Homo sapiens: one gene and its partner. The protein of the gene in region 2 interacts with the protein of the main gene of each other region in a pairwise test. Each region holds a gene or a part of one and is shown on either strand. Other genes may lie near its edges.

The links.
Region 1: the proteins of SYT15 (region 2) and CLEC2D interact in binary tests that used the Homo sapiens proteins (3 or more experiments, as listed by UniProt).

What each region holds. Positions count from the first base shown.
Region 1 is NC_000012.12:9,693,690-9,700,057, reverse strand, and holds the end of CLEC2D (C-type lectin domain family 2 member D), read right to left. Parts: intron 5,299-6,368; coding exon 5,184-5,298; 3' UTR 505-5,183; downstream 1-504. UniProt on the Homo sapiens protein: Receptor for KLRB1 that protects target cells against natural killer cell-mediated lysis. Inhibits osteoclast formation. Inhibits bone resorption. Modulates the release of interferon-gamma. Binds high molecular weight sulfated glycosaminoglycans.
Region 2 is NC_000010.11:46,582,117-46,589,143, reverse strand, and holds part of SYT15 (synaptotagmin-15), read right to left. Parts: coding exon 6,953-7,027; exon of another isoform or gene 6,006-6,952; intron 5,413-6,005; coding exon 5,242-5,412; intron 4,650-5,241; coding exon 4,529-4,649; intron 3,547-4,528; coding exon 3,367-3,546; intron 1,640-3,366; coding exon 1,497-1,639; 3' UTR 1-1,496. UniProt on the Homo sapiens protein: May be involved in the trafficking and exocytosis of secretory vesicles in non-neuronal tissues.

The DNA of each region.
Region 1 (6,368 bases), on a different chromosome or scaffold from region 2:
GAAAGCCTTAGAACCAGGAAATGTCTTCCTGACCAATACATGAAGTATTATTAAAATATGCCTAAATAAAACAAAGCATAATTCTCAGTGTAAGGCCAAAGGTCTGGGAAACTGGGGAACTCCAATGTCTGAGAGTAGAAAGAAATGGATGCCCTAGCTTTAGAAGAGAATAAATTTACCCTACCTGACTTTTTGCTCTGTTTGGGTAAGACCTGCACGGATTGGATGATGCCTGCCAACATTGGTGAAGGTAGATCATCTTTACACAGCTTAGTGATTCCAACATCAATCTCTTTCAGAAAAGCCCTCATAGACACATCCAGAGATAATGCTTTCCCTGCTGAGTATACCTTATCTCAGTCAAGTTGACATATAAAATTAGCCATCACACTTCACTTGACAGTTTTAAAGTGTTTTCAAAATGACTATTACTTAAAACAGAAAGCCAATCATCTTTTACATAATTGAGACCCACCCTGAAGAATAAGAGATAGCTGTAATATATTTACAGTTCACTGCCTTTCAAAGTGTTTATTCAGAATTATACTAGAAGTAATTTCATGAAAATAATATTGTGCAACCTTTTCATTCTATTTCAATGAAAAGCAGGCATGAACATTACTCAAGCTTGAAATTTTACTGAAAAGTAAACATTTCAATTAAGCTTAAGGAAAAAAGAAATTTCCTGAGATTTCCAGTGTATACAGAAGTGTCTTTCCATTAAGAATAATTAAAAGTTAAAAAATATGCTGATAACTTGCCACAATTGACAGAATGCAGATTAATAGGATAAATGGCAAACAAATCTATAAAAATGCATGCAGAGAATCAGAGTGATCACCCCACCAAGCAATGGGGTATAGATGGTGATATACCCTTGTCCTTAGGGGAGAGGGAGATGGGGAAGTGTGGGTGATTTTGGGGGAAGAGTAAATAATTTGGGGAGAACTTAATGGGGTGAAGATCACATAAATGGCCTGGGACAAAGTCTACTGGGCTTGCAGAGAAGACAATGGTTTGTGAGAAAAATCTATCCAGGTGGGTTAAGAGACTTCATTCTTTTTCCTACAATATGACTTCAGTTAATGAAAACCCATGGAAGGCACCAGAATTAACTGTTTTCTTATTTGGTGAGTCTGAACTTAAAGCAGATAAAGGAACTTCAGAGAACTTCCTCCTGTGCTCTGGGAAAACAGAGGATTAAGAAACAGAGGTTGAGGAGGAGGTCAGAGAGACCTCGAGTCTTCTTTAGTTCCACCTGTCAAATCACTATATGTTAGGGTATCCGTTTCTGAGCCCCAACAATAGTTTGGAAATATATTCTCCCAATCTGTAAGTTGTCTCTTTACTCCATTAATTATTTCCTTTGCTGTGCAGAAACATTTTTTATTTTATGCAATTTCATTTGTTTATTTTCACTGTGGTTGCATCTACTTTTGAGGTCAAATCCAAAAATTATTGCCCAGACCAACGTTGTGAAGCTTTCTCCCTATATTTTCTTTTAGTAGTTTTACAGTTTAAGTCTTTAATCGATTTTCAGTTGGTTTTTATATATGGTAGGAGGTAAGGGTCCAATTTTATTCTTCTGCATGTGGATATACAATTTTCCCACCACCATTCATTGAAGACTATTTTTTCCCCATTGTGTATTCAACATTTAGGGACTGGGGCTGGGGAATAGAGAGATGTTCCCCACATGTCACAGGGTAGTAGGTTTCAGTTAAGAGGAATAAGCTTTTGAGATCTATTGCACAGCATAGTGACTATAGTTAATAATAGTGTATTGGATCTTTCAAAATTGTCAAGAGAATAAATTTCAAATGTTCTCACCACAGAAAATGATAAGTATGTGAGATGATGAAATGTTAGTTTGATTTAATCATTCCATAGTGTACACATATATCAGAACATCACATTGTATTCCATAATTATACAGTTGTCAGCTAAAAATTTAAAAAATAAAAATATCCTTTAAAAATGCAAATAGCAACTGCAGATAGAAATTTATCATGTATCTCCCAATGTGCTTTTTTATTGTATATATTTGATGTGTATAATGTGATGTTTTTATGTACATACACTTAATCTAATTAACATAAGCTTCATCTCACATACTTACATTTCTTTTTGTCTGTGTGGTAAGAATATCTAAAATCTGTCATCAAGTTTTCAGTACACAGTGCAATACTATTATAGTCCTCATACTGTATGTTAGATATCTAGACATACTCACCCTTTGTAACTGCAACTCTGTATCTTTTGACCTGTGTCTCTGTATTTTCCTCATCTCTGGTAACCACCATTCTACTCTATTTCTATGTATTTGGGTTTTTTTTTTAAGTTTCACTATAAGTGAGATCATGCAACATTTTTTTTCTGTGTCTGGCTTATTTCACTTAGTATATATAATAAACCCTATAGGTTTATTTACATTGTTTCAAATAACAGTGCTGAGACCAGCTCAGTCGGGTAGATCCTAACCCAGCAGCGCCAGAGGAACTAAAGACACACACACAGAAATATAGAGGTGTGAAGTGGGAAATCAGGGGTCTCACAGCCTTCAGAGCTGAGAGCCCAGAACAGAGATTTACCCATGTATTTATTAACAGCAAGCCAGTCATTAGCATTGTTTCTATAGATATTAAATTAACTAAAAGTATCCCTTATGGGAAATGAAGGGATGGGCCGAATTAAAGGAATAGATTGGGCTAGTTAACTGCAGCAGGAACATGTCCTTAAGGCACAGATCGCTCATGCTATTGTTTGTAGCTTAAGAACGCCTTTAAGTGGTTTTCCACCCTGGGCAGGCCAGGTGTTCCTTGCCCTCATTCCCATAAACCCACAACCTTCCAGCGTGGGTGTTATGGCCATCACTAACATGTCACAGTGCTGCAGAGATTTTGTTTATGGCCAGTTTTGGGGTGAGTTTATGGCCAGATTTTGGGGGGCTTGTTCCCAACATAACAGGATTTCTTTTTACAAGGCTGAATAATATTCTATTTTTTATATATATATATATATGTATGTATGTATATAATGTGTGTGTTTTATATATATGACAATTTCTTTATCCATTCATCTGTTAATGGTCACTTCAGTTAGTTCCGTATCTTGGCTATTATGAATAAAGATGTGTTATAATAAACAGGAAAGCAGATATCTTTATGAGGTGGTGATTTCATTTCCTTTGGGTGTATATCTGGAAAAGGGATTGCTGGCTCATATGGTAGTTCTCTTTTTAATTTCTTTAGGAACCTCCATGACGTTTTCTATAATGGCTGCACCAAACTGTGTTCCCACCAACTGTGTACAAGGGTTCCGTCTTCTCCACACTCTCACCAATGCTTGTTATTTCTTGTCTTTTTGATATAGCCATCTGATATGGTTTGGTTGTGTCTCCACCCAAATTTCACCTTGAATTGTAATAATCTCCACATGCAAAGGGCAGGGCCAGGTGGAGACAATTGCTTTATGGGGGCAGTTTTCCCCATACCTTTTTTTTTTTTTTTACTTTATTAAAATACTGAGTTTTATTTCACGTGTATACTTTTGTCTCCCCACCATTTCCATGTCTGACCACTGCTACTACTATGTCCTATCATAGCATCCCATACATACTTAAAACCAAGCAAAGGGTGGAGTTCCATCTTTAAAAACTAAACAGGCATTTTGGACAACACATTCTTGGCAATAGAACCTGGACAACATTTATCAAACATGGTAGGGAAAGTTCTCACTCTGCACTATAAAAAGGACAGCCAGATATCAACTGTTACAGAAATGAAATAAGATGGAAAATTTTTAACAAATTGTTTAAACTATTTTCTTAAAGAGACTTCCTCCACTGCCAGAGATCTTGAATAGCCTCTTGGTCAGTCATCCAGAAGAAATTCTTCACATAATTGATGAACTTGGTTTCCACTTTGGGAAGAGAACCACGTTTTTCTATACTTGCTTGCATTTTTGCTTTAATGTCTTCTACAGAACTAGATCCTTTTGGTGTTTTAGGAGATTTTTCCTGTTTTTTGAAGGATTCTTGTCCTTTTGATCTTGGTGTTGATGATGGTTTTGAGTCTTTTCCATTCTGATTTGACTTTTGTGCATTTTTGGCTGGAGTATCTCGTATAGATTTCTTCACTGGCGCTTTTTCTTCAGCTTCCTCGTCATCATCATCATCATCATCTTCATCATCATCATCATCAGCAGCAGCAGCAAGTTTTACTTTTTTCTGCCCACCTCCAGGGGCAGACTGCTTTCCAGATATACTTAAGAGTTTCACATCCTCCTCTTCTTCATCTTCTGACTCTGCACCTTCCTTCACAGCTACTAAGTGCTGTCCACTAATATGCACTGGCCCTGAACCACACTTCAACCTTAAGTCCACTGGTGGTGTTATTTCAAAGCCCCCAAGAGAAACCGTTGGCTGTACAGACATTTTCAAAGTTGCCAGTGTTACTTTAATTGGACTGCCTTCGTCATTCATGGCCTCTGCTTCAACAATGTGCAGTTCATCCTTTGCACCAGCCCCTGAGCTGACCGTTCTTAAAGATAACTGGTCTCATTTTCATCATTATCCACCTTAAAGTGATCATCTTTGTCGGCCTTTAGTTCACAACTGAAAAGATAGTTCTGGGGCCTCAGGGGGCTCATGTCCATGTCCATCGAATCTTCCATCGGGTGGCGACACACACTTAGGTAGGAGACAAGGCAGACGAAGATAAATGAATGCTGCTCCAGAGAACAGCCGCGCAGGACGGAATCACACCAGGGAGCCCCATACTGTTCTTGTCTCAAGATATCTGATGGTTGTATAAATAGGAGTTCCTGTGCACAAGTCCCCCTGCCTGCCACCACATAAGACATGACTTTGCTTCCCATTTGCCTTCTGTCATGATTGCAAGACCTCCCCAGCCATGTGGAACTATGAGTCAATTAAATCTCTTTTATTTATAAATTACTCAGTCTCGGGTATGTCATTAGCAGTGGGAGAACAGGTAATATTAGCACCATGAAAACAGGTAATATTTTACTATGATTTTGATTTGTATTTTCCCAGTTATTAGTGATATTGAGCATATTTTCATATACCTGTTGGTATAAGAAATAAATTCTTTGCTCATTTTAAAATGGAGTTATCAGTTCCAATATGCTTCTAAAGATTAGTTGGGGCTTTGCTGTAACATCTAGACATGTATATCTGATTTGGAACAAATCCACTTCCTCTCTGTGTAGTGCCTGGCACTACTGGCACCTTTGTCATTCAAATAGGCACACTCTCCTGCTCCCAGGATAGGAAACCTGCAAGAGAAGAAGCAGAATCAGTTGGCCACTGAACATTTCTTCAACAGCAGAGAGAATGAAGATGAGAAAATGAGAAAACTAACATTAATTCAGCCTCTAAAAATAATGCTGTTTTTCCTTGTGTAGTGGTGACTAATTAGTCAGTGGGCTTTGCTTAGCAGGAGATGTTATAAATCAACTATAGGAATACTGCAAAGTCCTGAATCAAACCTATTTCATGTCTGTAAGCATAATATTCTTTCAAGTACATCCAAAGCCTTAGCTGGCTGATGGGAGAAGTCTGACACGTTTTCTTTACACAGTTTCCCAATATTTTGCTTCCTTAAATAACTGAAGACTCAGCAGCTATTTCTAAAAACCATGCTTGATTTTATTCCTCCTACTTCCCTGGTGGTTTTAGTACTGAAACTGCAGTGCTATTTAGCTGAGTTTAGATGGCTTGGCACAGATATTTTAGGTCAGCATTTGGATTATAAATTTTTCCTCTTTGCTCATTGGAATCACTATCATCTATGATATAATTTGCTAATTGTTGAAACTTGTTAGACCTTAATCATATAATATTTTACATTTCTTTAAGTGATGAGCAGTTTCCAAAAACTGGTTAGTTAATAATATATTTGATCCTTAAAATATTTTGAGAGGCCAGGCATGGTGGCTCACACCTGTAATTCCAACATTTTGGGAGGCCGAGGTGGGAGGATTGCTTGAGCTCAGGAGTTCAAGATCAGCCCAGGCAACATAGTGAGACCCCATCGCTGAAAAAAAAAAAAAAAAAAAAAAAAAAGCCAAGCAAGGTGGCACACACCTGTAGTCCCAGCTACTCAGGAGGCTGAGATGGGAGGCTCACTTGAGCCAGGGAAGTCAAGGCTGCAGTGAGCCACGATGGTACTACTGCACTCCAGCCTGGGTAACAGAGTAAGACCCTGTCTCTCAAAAATACAAACAAACAAAAAACCATTTTAAGAATTAGGTAGAGAAAATTTACTACTTCCGTATTGTAAAATAAGAAATAAAAGTTAATTCTAGATATTTATGAAGCAGTCACAATGTGCAAGGCAGTGTAG
Region 2 (7,027 bases):
CTGTTCATACGAAACACTGCGAGGCGACACTTGTGTTTGTAGATTGACAGAAATTGGAGGTGGAGTTAAAGAGGTAGAAACTCAGTATAACATTCATTGCCTCTTTTGCTAAAGTTGTTTCACTGCATAAGAAAAAGATACTGGTCGGGCTGGGTGCGGTGACTCATGCCTGTAATCCCAGCACTTTGGGAGGCTGAGGCAGGTGGATCACCTGAGGCCAGGAATTTGAGACCAGCCTAGCCAACATGGTAAAATTCCGTCTCTACTAAAAATAAAAAAAATTAGCCAGGCATGGTGGCGGGCGCCAGTAATCCCAGCTACTTGGGAGGCTGAGGCAGGAGAATCGCTTGAACCTGGGAGGTGGAGGGTGCAGTGAGCCGAGATCACGCCATTGCACTCCAGCCTGGGTGACAAGAGGGAAACTCCGTCTCAAAAAATTAAAATAAAAAAAAAAAAAAGAAAAAGAAGGAAAAAAGAGAAAGAGATAGTGGTTCCATGTGCTGTTCTAGTTACACAAAACAACGTGTTGACGTGCAGGCTGCACGATGCCAGGTGCAAATACACACTACCTGTTACAGTAACTGTGACAAGCACAAGGGCTGCTCACTAGCTTGAGTGCAACTTCTGGGGAGTTGATGGCAGTGATCTGTGGGTACTTCCTTCTTAACAAATTTTACATCAATACTGCAACACAGCAATCTCAGCCCTGTGGGCTATACCATAGCCACATGCTTTCACCATTTCCTGCTCAAAGGGAGAGCCCAGGAACTGAATGCTCTTAATCAGGGAGAGCACAGAAACAGCAGCAGAACAGCTGGAGAACCAGGGCTGTGTGGTTTTGGACTGTGGGGAGGGTGGGCCATGGGCAGACTTGACACAATGTGGGAGGGCATTTGACACAGCCCCGTGGAGGACCTAATGCTCGGGGAGGCCTTCACCCAGCACAGTGAGCCATGCCGACACTTGGTGCCTGAGTGCGCTGGTCACAGCGCCCTCCCTGTGATTTTCCCCATAGCAGTGTGTTTTCTCTGCCAGGCAGAAGGCAGAGAAACCCTGGCTGAAAAAGCAGTGAGGGTCATCGACTGCATGAACACATCATCAGCTTTCCCAGATGGAGGCACCCAAGTTTACCCTGCAGGTCCATTCAGCAGGTAGAGCTGGGTCATCACTAAACAGGATCTTTCTTCTGAGCATCTGAGATTCTGGTCCAAATCAGGGCTGTGAGGACCAGGAGCCGGGATTCCGAGCCCAGGCAGCCCCGCAGATAAGGAGGAGGGAGTGTGTCGGAAGGCTGTATGGCCAGAGCCGCTGACCGGGCCAGGGCTTCTTTGTCCCCTCTTCTCTCCTGCATATCAGCACTCACGTCCTCCTGGCTCGGGCTGGCTGGCAGCTCGGGGAGCTGTTGGATGAAACGTCCATGCGTGTGGCTGTGGCTGTCACATGCAACTGCGAGGATGGTCGGCTCCCAAAGCGGAACCGCGGTGCTGGGCGAAGGGTCAGGGCTCCGTGGTGCGGCAGAGCGCATGCCAGCGCTTCACCAGCTCCTTGGGCTTGCTGAGCATCTCGTCCCAGTGCTCCAGCTCTCTGCCGCGGGTGTACATGTAGGGGCCCACCACCACTCGGCCCAGCTGCTGGCTCTCTGCAGGGGAGGGAGAGCACCGGTGTGCTCCTGAGCACAGAAGCCCCGTCCCCAGTGACCTCCTTTCCTCCCTCCTCCTCCCCAGGAGGAAGTAGCAACTCCCCTCCTCTCTGAGTGGGAGCTGACAGGCCCCAAAGGGGCCCTGCCTTTGCTCTGCAGCTGGAAGGGCTGCTTCTCCCCCTGGGAGATTGGGAGGAAGGAGAGCCCTGAAAGACTCTCTCCTTGAGGGCCACCAGCTCTGCCCCACACCCTTCTGTGGGGCCGTATTAAGTCTACCTTATGCCAAAGAGCTGAGGGAGGAAAGGGCCCCTCTAGAAAGAAGGCCTCGGCCATCCGAGAGTACATTCAGCAGTAACATTCACTGGCCACCGTGGAGAAGGGTCTTAAGTCCAGGCCATGTGGCCAGCCACGGCCTGATGGCTCTGTTTCCCCAGAGTGGCAGTGGGTGCTGGGGTGTGGGGCAGTGTGGGAGCTGGCTGACAGAACTCGCCCAGAACCCCAAAGTCTCATCTGGAGGGCACGAGGAAGGTCAGAGCACCAGGTCCCTGGGCTGGTGGCAGGCCTGGCCCCTCCCACTCTCTCGGGTGATTTGCTCCAGGAGAGGGCAGCAGAGGCCATTGCTTAACCTCTTTCTTTTTCTTTTCTTTTCTTTTTTTTTTTTTTGACAGAGTCTCGCTCTGTGGACAGGCTGGAGTGCAGTTGCAAGATCTTGGCTCACTGCAACCTCTGCCTCCCGGGTTCAAGTGATTCTTCTGCTTCAGCCTCCCGAGTAGTTGGGCCTACAGGCGTGCACCACCACGCCTAGCTAACTTTTGTATTTTTAGTACAGACGGAATTTTACTATGTTGGCCAGGATGGTCTTGATCTCTTGACGTCGTGATCCACCCCTCTCGGTCTCCCAAAGTGCTAGGATTATAGGCGTGAGCCACCGCACCCAGCCAACCTCTTTTTTTTTTTTTGAGACGAAGTCTCGCTCTGTTGCCCAGGCTGGAATGCAGTGGTGCGATCTCGGCTCACTGCAAGCTCCGCCTCCCAGGCTCATGCCATTCTCCTGCCTCAGCCTCCCAAGTAGCTGGGACTACAGGCACCAGCCACCACACCCAGCTAATTTTTTGTATTTTTAGTAGAGACGTGGTTTCACTGTGTTAGCCAGGACGGTCTCGATCTCCTGACCTCGTGATCTGCCTACCTCGGCCTTCCAAAGTGCTGGGATTACAGGTGTGAGCCACCGTGCCCGGCCCTTTTTTTTTTTTTTTTTTTTTTGACAGATTCAGCAGCCTCGCCTCCTGGGTTCAAGAGATCCTCCCACCTCAACCTCCCAAGTAGCTGGGATTACAGGGGTGTGCCACCACGCCCAGCTAATTATTGTATTTTTAGTAGAGATGAGCGTTTCACCATGTTGGCCAGGCTGGTCTTGAACTCCTGAGCTCAAGTGATCCACCCACCTTGGCCTCCCAAGGTGCTGGGATTACAGATGTGAGCCAGCATGCCCGGCTGCTTAACCTGTTTCTAGGGTGCCACAGACAGAGCTCAACTGGACTAAAGCTGGGCCTGAAACCCAGGCCTTGGGCAATATTTCAGCCTTTCTGAGCACTAGTTTCCTTAACCAGGGAGGGAGCTCGTACAGCTCCTTCTGAGGTCAGGACAGGAGGCACTCACTCTGCCTGAACACTCGGCAGCCCCTCGTGGTCCCCATCCCAGCAGCCCAGGGTAGGGTGTGGCCTTACTGTCCCCTTCCATGTTCTGCACCACAGTCAGGCTGAGGCTAGCGGTATCCAGCTCGGTGGCATCGGCCTTGAAGCTGAAGGTCTCATTGTACACAGGGTTGATGGAGCCCAGCACAGCTGAAGTCTTCTTGCACTTGACAAACTTGTTGTGGTTCATCAGAGACACTTTGACAAACACACCTAGGGAACGGTGAGCACTAGTGGGCTGGCAGAGGCAGGTGGGAGCAGAGCCCCTGCCTGTGGGAGGTCCGGCTAGGAGGGCACGTGCCCAAGCTAGGTGCCAGGGCCCCACCCCTCACACAGTGCTGCGGCCCCGCCGGCGTGACCAGAGGAAGCCGGCTGAGGAGTGCACTGCCCTGCGGCCCAGGCGGGGCTCCGCTCCCTTCCTTTTCCTTCCTCTTTGCATCAGGAAAGTACCCACGGCTCCTGCAGGCCCTGGTTTACCAGAGCCTAGCACCGCAAGCCTGTCCCTCCCTGTTGGGGGGCTGCTCACTGGGCCCCCAGGCCCCCTGGGGCCCCTTAAACACCTTGTACAGAGGGCTAAGATTTGGTGGGTGAGGGTCAGAGTCACAGTGGAAGGTCTGGATCCTGCCTGGCTTACGGTGACCCCAGATGTGAACACAAACAGGTGGCTGACCACCACCTCACTGGGATGGGTGGGATGTGTGGGGTGAGCCCAAATGGGGTGGGACATGTGGGGTGAACCAAGGCCTCCCCTTCTGCAGCTCCTGTATTCTGGGAGGCCAAGCATCAGTGCCCATTGAGTCGGGGGCTCTTCCCCTGTGGGGAGGGAGGTGCGGGCCTCACCCTGGAGGAACTGGACCCATGCCGCTGATGGAAAGGTGGAGGTGGAGGCAGGCAGGACAGTTCAAAGAGCCAAGACGCTGCCTCGGGAAACAGGAGGGGCAGGGCCTGGTATTGCGGCTGGGTTAGAACCCTCCGTAGGGGAGGCCAAGGAGATGCAGCTTTGGGTTCAACACAGGAAGAGGCTTCCTGCACCAGAACTGTCGACCGAGGGACAGCACGTCTTGTGAGGTAGTGAGCGCTCCATGATAGGTGTATGCAAGCAGAAACTGGATGGTCAGGGATGAGGTTGGACTGTAGCCCCAGGCTGTAAGCTCGGTGGGTGGGACCTTCCCCAGGAGGAAAGGGAGGAACTCACTGACAATGCCTCTGTCCTCCTGGAGCCGGAGGCCCTTGGCACGCAGCACAACCACCGTCAGGCGGCTCAGGTAGTCGTTGTAGCTGAGGCAGAACTGGAGGTCGCCAAACTCCGAGGGGGGCTGGGGAGGCCAAGATGGAAGCACCCCACCCTGTTACTCTGGCAAGTGCTGAAGGGGTCACAGAACCCCCAGAGAGCCTCCCGCTTCCTCCTAGCGGTCCATGCGACACACCCGCATGGTCCCCTTTGAGTTCCACTGCCATTTTAAGGATGGGGCAACTGTGGTCTGGAGAGTTTAAGGGGCTTGTGCAGTCCTGTGGACCAGAGCTAAGGAGTCACACCCAGGTCTGAGCCAGCTGGGGCCTTCCTGGGGGTGGTGGGCTGGAGGAAACATTTCCCTGGGCTGGACCATTTGTGGTGTCATCTCTCACAGCTGTCTAACCTAGATAAGAATCCAAATGTGGATATTTCAGGTTGCTCCAGGGGGTCTGATGGCCAGTGTGACAACAGGACCTCAAGCAGGCCCTCCCTGCCCAGGGGCAGGTCCGTTCCCACCTGTCCCATGCTGCTTGGGGCCTGGGCCCTCCTCCCTGAGTCACTGTTGTAGGGTGGTGTGCAGGATGCTGAGGGCTGATGCCGCCAGCAGGTGCTGGGCCCTGTGCACACCTGCCAGCTGATGCTCAGTGGCATAGGCATGGTGACCTTGACCATACCTCCAGGCTCTCGGCCTCCAGGTCTCTCCAGATGACACGCCGGCAGTCCCCCACTAGGGTCTCATTCTTCAAGGGGAAGAGCACCTGGCCCAGGAGCTGGTGCTTCCTCTGCCTGTCCACGTGGTAGACGGAGAACTTCAGCACCCTCTGGGTGATGGTCTTGCTGGACACCTGGGGGGGACAAGGACACCAGCCAGAGTCAGGCGTGGGGGTAGGGGATGGGATGGTGTGACTTGTTATTCTGGACATGGGTGCTTTTGGGAACGGGTGTCTCAACCAGGGACCCACATCCCCCAAACCTAGGCATTTTCAGGGGACCCTTCTCAGCAGCAGAGCCGTGTACCCCTGGAAAGTGGGGGTAGGTGCCAGGACCTTGGTACACAGAGTGTGGTCCGAGGACCTGTAGCGTCTACCACCACTTGGAGCCCTGTTAGAAATGCAGGATCTTGGGCCCCAGCCCAGATTCATGAATTGGAATCTGCCGTTTAACCGGAGCACCAAGTGACATGGCTGCACGGTGAGTGTGGCTCCGCCACCACCCTGCACTGTAGCAAAGGCCCAGGAGCCCAGGGCACCGGCCTGTCTCTGCTGTCAGAGCTGGGCATGCCAGCTCTCTCCTCCCTGAGATTTGGCCTCCTCGCCTGTGAAATGGGGATTATGGGTCTTCCTCTCTGGTTGTAAAACCCCAATCACAGTGTCTGACCTCCAGCAGATGGCCCATTAATATTGATTTTCTTTTCTTTCCCCTTCTCCCTTTTCCACAGAGGGATTGGATCAAGCTGGGGCGAGATAGAGTGGGGAAGTGATGAGCTAAGAAAAATTAGCCTGCAAGCATGACGTGTCGCACGTCAGCAAGGCTGCAGCCTTGGATTCTGATGTCTTGAGAAGAGCGATTCACCTGTGAATTCTCACAGCCCTGGCCTCAGAAAGACGGCCCGGGACCAGGCCCGATGGCACCCCTCTTCCCAGCTCTCAGCCAGGGCGGAAGGCACAAGTGATGGCCCTGGCCTCCGCAGTCACACTCCTCCTGAAAGCTGACTGGCTGAACCTCACCTCTTGGCTAGCTTGCCACCCAGCTCTTGAGAACATGTTTGTCCAAGGCCTCTTGGCAGGTCTCGATGACTCCTTCCCCTAAGGGCCCCCAGTCACCTGCTAAGGCTCCCAGGCCCCTGTGAAACTGGCTCGGTGCCCCAATAGACTCTCCACCTCCAGACCCTAAGCCGGCCAGCCCAGAGTGCAGCAAGGCACCACACCTACCCTGTGAGGGCACTCGGGCCCCGCGCTGGCCTCTGACAGCACAGGAAGCTTCTGCATTCACGCTGAGGCCTGTCTTTTGCCTTCCTTAGATAAACTTGCCAGAAACCCCATAGTGCTTCAGGCCTTTGGGATAATTCCCCTGAGCCCCATAGGCCAGGGCCTGGCATTCAGTAGTTGCTCTAAAATTGTGTTTTCACCCACTCTCTTCCAGGTAGTCAGGACAGGGAAGCCCAGGCTTCTGGTCACCACTCACCAAATCTCTCCCCTGCCCCTCTATCAGGGATCAGCTCCTATAGGCCTTAACCTAGCAGACTAGGTAAAGCAGAGCTGGTGGCATCAAGGGTCCCGGGGGCTGCAGAGCCCTGGCTGGTACAGGAGGCTGGGCTCTCCTGTAGGTCTGCACCTTCCCAGCAACGCGGAGGGCACCAGACCCTGCCTGCTCCAGAGGCTGTACCTGAAAGATGAAGTGCTCGTCAAACTGCGGGTTGGAGGTTTTGCGTTTGGTCTTGGATTGGAGGAAGCGCCGCTC